Linked DNA regions of Homo sapiens. The protein of the gene in region 2 interacts with the protein of the main gene of each other region in a pairwise test. Each region holds a gene or a part of one and is shown on either strand. Other genes may lie near its edges.

What was found. Proteins that work in one complex are often made in the same cells at the same time.
Region 1: the proteins of UBQLN4 (region 2) and SMAD9 interact in a two-hybrid assay, tested with the Homo sapiens proteins (one large-scale study listed by BioGRID and IntAct).

What each region holds. Positions count from the first base shown.
Region 1 is NC_000013.11:36,878,566-36,882,292, forward strand, and holds part of SMAD9 (mothers against decapentaplegic homolog 9), read right to left. Parts: intron 2,213-3,727; exon of another isoform or gene 1,724-2,212; intron 1,311-1,723; 5' UTR 1,125-1,310; coding exon 713-1,124; intron 1-712. UniProt on the Homo sapiens protein: Transcriptional modulator activated by BMP (bone morphogenetic proteins) type 1 receptor kinase. SMAD9 is a receptor-regulated SMAD (R-SMAD).
Region 2 is NC_000001.11:156,043,799-156,047,298, reverse strand, and holds part of UBQLN4 (ubiquilin-4), read left to right. Parts: intron 1-3,075; coding exon 3,076-3,301; intron 3,302-3,500. UniProt on the Homo sapiens protein: Regulator of protein degradation that mediates the proteasomal targeting of misfolded, mislocalized or accumulated proteins.

The DNA of each region.
Region 1 (3,727 bases), on a different chromosome or scaffold from region 2:
TACTTAAAACCATTTTTAAAAATAACTGCCTGGAATGATTTCCAGCAACTCTTTCATTGGCTGTTTTCAGACCTAGACATGAGATATCTTCTACTTACCTGAACTTGAACAAAGTAGCAGCCAAAAACCCTGCCTTAGTTCAGTTTAGTACAGTTCAGTTCAGTTGTTTGGGGCGGGGGGAGGAGGATGTTTAATTTTTACAGCTCATCATTATCAAGGCCATTTTAAAACCTTTCAGGACCCCAAGAACTGGTAAAAGATTATGTTGACTTGTCCCAGATACCTCAAAATAAAACTTTTATGGCAGTTTTCTCCGATTAGCCATCTGCCTCATTTTCAAAATCACACAAAGCTTACCAGCATAATGAAATCAAATGAAAATATCTTCTTTCTAGATTTTCCTGACTAGTTTATCTTCATTCCTTCACACTGGCTATAACAGGGTTTTACTGCGATTCTCTTTGGATTGAGTGTTCCTGTGGCATTCCAGGCAGGAATATCGTTTTCATGGGAACTTTCTTTGATTGGACAGCTGCCTCATTCCGGGAAACAAAATTTTGGACGAGTCCCTCAAAACTGAACCTCCCTCTCCTCTCTTCTCTCTCTCTCTTTTGGGAGAGGTCCCTGTCTGCTGGTGCCCCATCATTCTCCATCAATGGGGCACACGACCTTCACTCTGAAAATAAACCTTGACGTCGTAAAGACGACCCACCTGGAGTCTCCACCCGGCGGTAGTGGTAAGGGTTAATGCACACTTCTTTCTGCTTGGAGCCAAATGGGAACTCACAGCACTCCAGCGGCTTCAGCTCGTGGTGGGACTGCAGATCCGGCCAGCGCCACACGCGACAGTAAATCACATGGGGCAGGCCCTTGCGGTGGGACACCTGCAGCCGCCCGTCCAGGGAGCGGGGAATCGTGACGCATTTGCTGGGCTGCCCCGGGCAGCTGAGAGCCCTCTCCAGCTCGTCCATGGCTCCCTTCTTCTTCTTTAACTTCTTCACTAGAGAGTCCACTGCCTTCTCTGCCCACTTTTCCTCTTCATCTCCTTGCTTCCAGCCTAGCAGTCTCTTCACTGCGGGGCTGGTGAAGGAGAAGAGGGAGCTGATGGGGGTGGTGGAGTGCATAAGAGGCCACAGCAGGCTCCGGCGCGCACGGGAACCGCACAGCCCTTCACGGCAAAGTGGGCGGCGAGTAGCTCTCCAGGGGTGGCATAGGGACCAACCCGCCCGTTCTTCTGGGAGCAGCTGGGACCAATTCAAGTTGCGAAGTGTGTTGACTTTCTCCTAAGCCCTTGAACAGGGTGGCCAACTCTGGAAAACACGACAAGACTTCAATTAGCTTAATCGGAGTAACATTCAGAAAAAGTTGAAGTTGGATAGAAAGAGGCAATCTACACCTACAGTCCCAGCTACTCAAGTGGGTGAATGGCTCGAGCCCAGGAGGTCAAGGCTGCGCCACTGCACTCCAGCCTGAGCAACAGAACCAGGCCCCAAAGTTGGATAGAAGGGAAAAAACATTCTTCAAATGTTTTAATTTTAAAACTGTTGTCTTTGACTCTGCCCTCTCCTGTATTTCCTATATCCAGGTCTCAGGTCATTCTGCCCTCAAAGTCTTTGGAGTTTGTCCTTTCTCTCCATTTCTGCCAACACCTGAGGTCTGACTCACCACACCACTTCTCTGAAGTAGCATCTCTCTTTCTCTCTTTCAATTCGAATTCACTTACTCCCAAACACAGCTCTTATCATTTTCCCATTTAAGAAATGACAGTGGCTCCTTGGTCTCCCAAGTGTAAACTCCTCTGCCTGGGTTTTTCCAGGGCCTCCATAATCTGCCCTCAACATGAGTATGTTCTTTCTTTCTCATTTTTAGTTTGCACAAGCAATCCATCTTCTTGTAGAAAATAAATACTAATGAAAAGAAAAGAAAAAAAGAATCGTGAATAATCTCACCACTCCTGGACAGCCATTCTTAACATAGTCTTCCAAACTACTTTTCAGGACAGTGGCTCTCAAAGTGTGCCCCAAGGATCCCTGGGAGTCCCCTGAGATCCTTTTAAGGGGACTATGAGGTTCTCTCTTTTCCAATTACTTATTTGTGTGAACTAACTTCGCTTCACATACTTCAACCAAAACAACATAACACAATAGAGTATATGGAGAAAAGATGACAATCTAGGTGCCATTTATTAAGCCAAGTATTAAATAGATTTGCAGTAATATAAAACAATAATACTCTTCTCAATAACTTTTTTGAAAACAATGTTTTAAATAAAAATATTTTATGTTAATACAGTTTTTTTAATGATTCAATCAATATTTTTTTAATTTCTTAGTTTCAATTTTTAAAATGGTAAAAATTGATAGATACAGCCTACAGAAGCAAGAGTTCTTTGGAGTTCTCAATAATTTTTAAAAGTGGAAATTTTCAAGACCCAAATGCATGAGAACTGCTTTTCTAGAAATTATACACTATCACACACCAATACATACACAAAAAAGCACAGCTGTCACATTTGTTATTTGGCCTAAAATCAGCTTAATTCTTCTTTGCCCTGTCATCCACAGGAGATGTTCTTTCCCAGTTATTCAGCAGTCTCATTTAAATTTCCTGAGGTCGAACTGTATTTCCTCTTCTGTGAAATAGTTGGCTTAAACAAAACCTCCTCCTCCTTCCAGATTTTAGAAACCAGCTACCTCATTAATGTTTAAAGTGGCTGGCTGGTAACATTTTGGAGTAAGCTGACTCAAGTATTTTGGGATCTTGGAATCGATGTAGCTTATAATCTCCAACAATTGTTTGTTTAATATGCATTAAATATAATTTTCTCCTTTGCTTCCCTGGAGGGCAAGCTGTACCTTTCTGAGTCCAATTCTATAAACTTCTTTCGAACAAAGGTGCCTTATAACCCCCCGCTAGGGTGATCATTATCGGGCACCTCAGGTGAGGAGGATGGCAGCATGGTCCCACAATAACGGATGAGATTTAATAAGTATAAAGCAATAGTCACATCACTTTATTCCTCATCTGGGCTTTATCTGGCATTGTACAGAGATAAACTATGACAAAAGGGAGAGTTGAGAGCTCCATAGCTGCTCTTTTCGCTTGGCAGTTTGACTTACACTCAGTTTTATTTGGAAAGGTTGATTTTGTGGCTTAACAATCATGAATTTATAAAGTATAGTTAAGTCATTGTGTTCAAGTTCTGTTTACTTAATCTAGTCAGGCTGCCTTAAAGCAATGGCTGAAGAGGGTTAGAAGCTTTAAGGAGAAGTCTCATGATAGAATAACCTGAACCCCAAAAGAGTTGTGAATTCTGCTTAGTTTTACATGGAACTCATTATTAGTAAGTTGTGGTATAGATCTTTAAGCTGAGGTCAGTCATAGAGAAAAGCTTTTTATAAAAACACTCAGCGAGTTAAACCAAATACACCTTTTAGAAACTTTTGCTCCATGAAACAACAGTTCCCTAAACCAGGTTTTGTTTGGTTCGTTTTTTTAAACTGTGGGTTTCTATTTACCAATGGCATGTGAAATCAATGAATTGGAACAAAACAGCTTTTGCACAAACAACAAAACAAAACAGACTTTATTGCAGAGCAGCTGACGAAAAATAAGTATAATAATAATCATTTCATGAAAAATTTTCATTCACAGGTATGTGCTGTGTGTGTGTGTGTGTGTGTGTGTGTGTGTGTATGTGTGTGCGGTGTATGTGTCCAGGGTTACA
Region 2 (3,500 bases):
GCACTCTAGCCTGGGCGACAGAGTGAGACTCCATCTCAAAAAAAAAAAAAAAAAAATTCACAAGTTACACAAAGTAAACAAAAGGGTATTCCAAAAAAGTATGGAAAAGTATACAGGCTAAAAAAAGGTTTACAGAAGGGATCCCTCTGTTTCCATCTCCCAGCCAGCTCTTTTCTACCTCAGTGGTAACTAATGTTGTTAGTATCTTGTTTATTTTCCTAGACATATTTAATATTTGCAAATAAGACATAGGTAGAGTTGTAGCCTTTACAAACCCCTCCCCTCTCCTATTCTTTTTCTTTCCAGAGGTAACTAGTATGCTGAAGTTGAAGTTGGGGTTTATCATTCTGATTCTTTTATTACCTATGTATATGTCTATAAACGTCTATATATTATCATATTTTTAAATATGAGGTGGTACCATGCTGGTCTTATTATTTTAACTTGCTTTTGTTTTGAGACAGAGTCTCACTGTTTCGCCCAGGCTGGAGTGCAATGGCGCGATCTCAGCTCACTGCAACCTCCACCTCCTGGGTTCAAGCGAGTCTCCTGCCTCAGCTTTCTGAGTAGCCGGGACTGCAGGCTTGCACCACCACGCCTGGCTAAGTTTTGTATTTTTTAGCAGACACAGGGTTTCACCATATTGGCCAGGCTGGTCTCGAACTCCTGACCTTGTCATCTGCCTGCCTCGGCCTCCCAAAGTGCTGGGATTACAGGTGTGAGCCACTGCACTTGGCTGCTTTTTTTTTTTTTAATACAACCTTTAAAAATGTTTTGTGTTTTTGGTTTGTTTTGTTTTTTTGAGACGAAGTTTCACTCGTTGCCCAGGCTGGAGTGCAATGGCGTGATCTCAGCTCACTGCAACCTCCGCCTCCCGGGTTCAAGTGATTCTCCTGCCTCAGCCTCCCGAGTAGCTGGGACCACAGGCGCCCGCCACCATGCCCAGCTATTTTTTTTTTTTTTTTGTATTATTAGTAGAGACGGGGTTTCACCATGTTGGCCAGGCTGGTCTCGAACTCCTGACCTCAGGTGATCCACCCACCTCGGCCTCCCAAAGTGCTGGGATTATAGGCGTGAGCCACCGTGCCCGGCCTAAAACTGACAAACTTTTAAAATATTTGTTTCATTTAAAAATGACAATTTATTACAAGTTGGTGGAGCGTAGTGGCGCATGCCTATAATCTCAGCATTTTGGGAGGCTGAGGCAGGTGGATCACCTGAGGTCAGGAGTTTGAGACCAGCCTGGCCAACATGGCGAAACCCCATCTCTACTAAAAATACAAAACTTAGCCAGGTGTGGTGGTGGGTGCCTGTCATCCCAGCTTCTCAGGAGGCTGAGGCAAGAGAATTGCTTGAACCCTGGAGGTGGAGGTTGCAGTGAGCCGAGATTGTGCCTTTGCACTCCAACCTGGGCAGCAAAACGAGACTCCATCTCAAAAAAAAAAAATTATTACAAGTTAACATAAATAACATTATTTTGAAAAATAACTTTATTTTCCAAAACAAACAAAACTGTAGAGGAAAGTATGGACTTGTTTTACATTTTTGTAGTTCTCTTTGATGTCTAGCTTACTACAAGACAGCTGGTTCTCAGATCTGCATTCAGTTTGCAATGTCACATGTCATGTAGACTTTGGAAAACTCCACTGTATCCTCATGAGAGAATAAGAGTGAAAAAGACAAATTCATGTCTTAGAATTATGAAAACAGTTTTAATGCTTGCAGGGGTCCCAGGACCACACTTTGAGAACTGTTGTATTAGAGGAGTATTATAAGCATTAGAATAAATGTGTCAGGCACATAGTAGGTGCTCAATAAATGATGGTTGTTATCACTGTGGGTAGTTCAGGAAAAGAGATTTCGTCCTTAGAGTGTACCAGGAAGAATAAAGCGAGCCCAGAACAAGGTGGGGTGAGGTGCTAGGCAAGTATCAGAACAAGAAATCTGAAACAGGCACAGAGGCTGAAACCATGGTGCATGAACCCTGGCCTGTGAGCTCTGTTATCTGAACAGGATCTGGTGAGGTGAAGGAAACAGCTCAGAGTAGGAGAATCCTTGGTTAGCCCCGGTCCCCATGACCCACTTTCAATGAACAGGAAAAGCAGCTCAATATGAAACCCTACGGTGGGGAGGGGCTGAGGTAGGACCACCTGGGAACTCAGGAAAGAGAGCTGCTGAGCTCTTAGACCACAAGAAAGGCTGAGTAGGGAAAACTGAGTCTGGGACTCCCTCAGCCAGAGCTCTGTGCTAGGTGCTGGAGGGGAGGAGGTTCCGGTGTTGCCTTTGGGAAGCACACCATCCCATGGGGTATGGACCTGAGATATCCTGGGGAGCACAGTGAGGAGCATGGTAGGGCAAGGGGGACCAGAAGTAAACTGAGGCCTGTCCATCTGAAGTAGCCAGTGTGTAGAGGTAGGGTTTGGAGCAGGAGGGGAAAACCTAGAGAGGGCATATTCTGCTGGAGGTGTGTTCTGCTAGGGGCCGCCACTGTGGTGTGCCTGGATGGACAGAGAATGCCAGGTAGGGGACCTGGGGAGTGAGGGAAAGGTTCTGGGGAGTTAGGATTAGTCCAAGGAGGCTGGGGAAAGGGAAGATCGGGGTTCAAGTAGAGAGCCAGGTTTGACAGCCCACTCCCATTAAGCCAGTAGTTAGTTATTGAGCACCTACTAGTGTCGGGGCTGGGGGTGCACAGGCAAATCTGACATTGCCTCTGCCCCTTGAGGTACAGGAACACAAATATTTGGCTACACAATGGGAAAACTGTGTGTAAAGTGCGGTGGGTTACATAGGAGATGATTAGAGACCAAATATTGAAAGCCACCGGGGGGATGGGAAGTTTCCAATTATCTGAGAGGTTCAGTTATCCAGTCACTAGCATCAGCTAGCTCCCACCCTATGGAGCAAGGAAGGAGCTATCCATTGTGGGGCAAAGAACTGAACTGAGGACCTCTAAGGTCTTAGATCTCTCTCCCTTTTCTGGGGAAGGGGAGGCTATTAAGTGAGAGGAGAGAATGGGCCTAGCCCTTGTCCCTGATTTGTTTCAGTCCTTAACCCAAAACCTTTCCCTCCTCCCAGTTTGGCAACAATCCCTTCTCTTCCCTGGCCGGGAACTCCGACAGCTCATCCTCCCAGCCTCTGCGGACTGAGAATCGAGAGCCCCTCCCTAACCCCTGGAGCCCCTCGCCCCCCACCTCCCAGGCCCCCGGGTCCGGTGGGGAGGGCACCGGAGGATCGGGGACCAGCCAGGTGCACCCGACAGTCTCGAACCCCTTTGGGATCAATGCGGCTAGCCTGGGGTCAGGTATGTCCTAGGATGGAAGGAGCTTAGTGGGGTCACCAGGGCAGCCCCTCTGTCCCAGGACTGAATGGGGTTCATACTGCTCCAGGATTTTGAAGACAGAGGTGAGACTATCGAGGCCACAGAGGGGGCTCTGCCGTCTGGGATAGTGGCCGGGTGAGGGCTGGTTCTGGCCATGTCCTGATATCCCTAGGAGTGACCT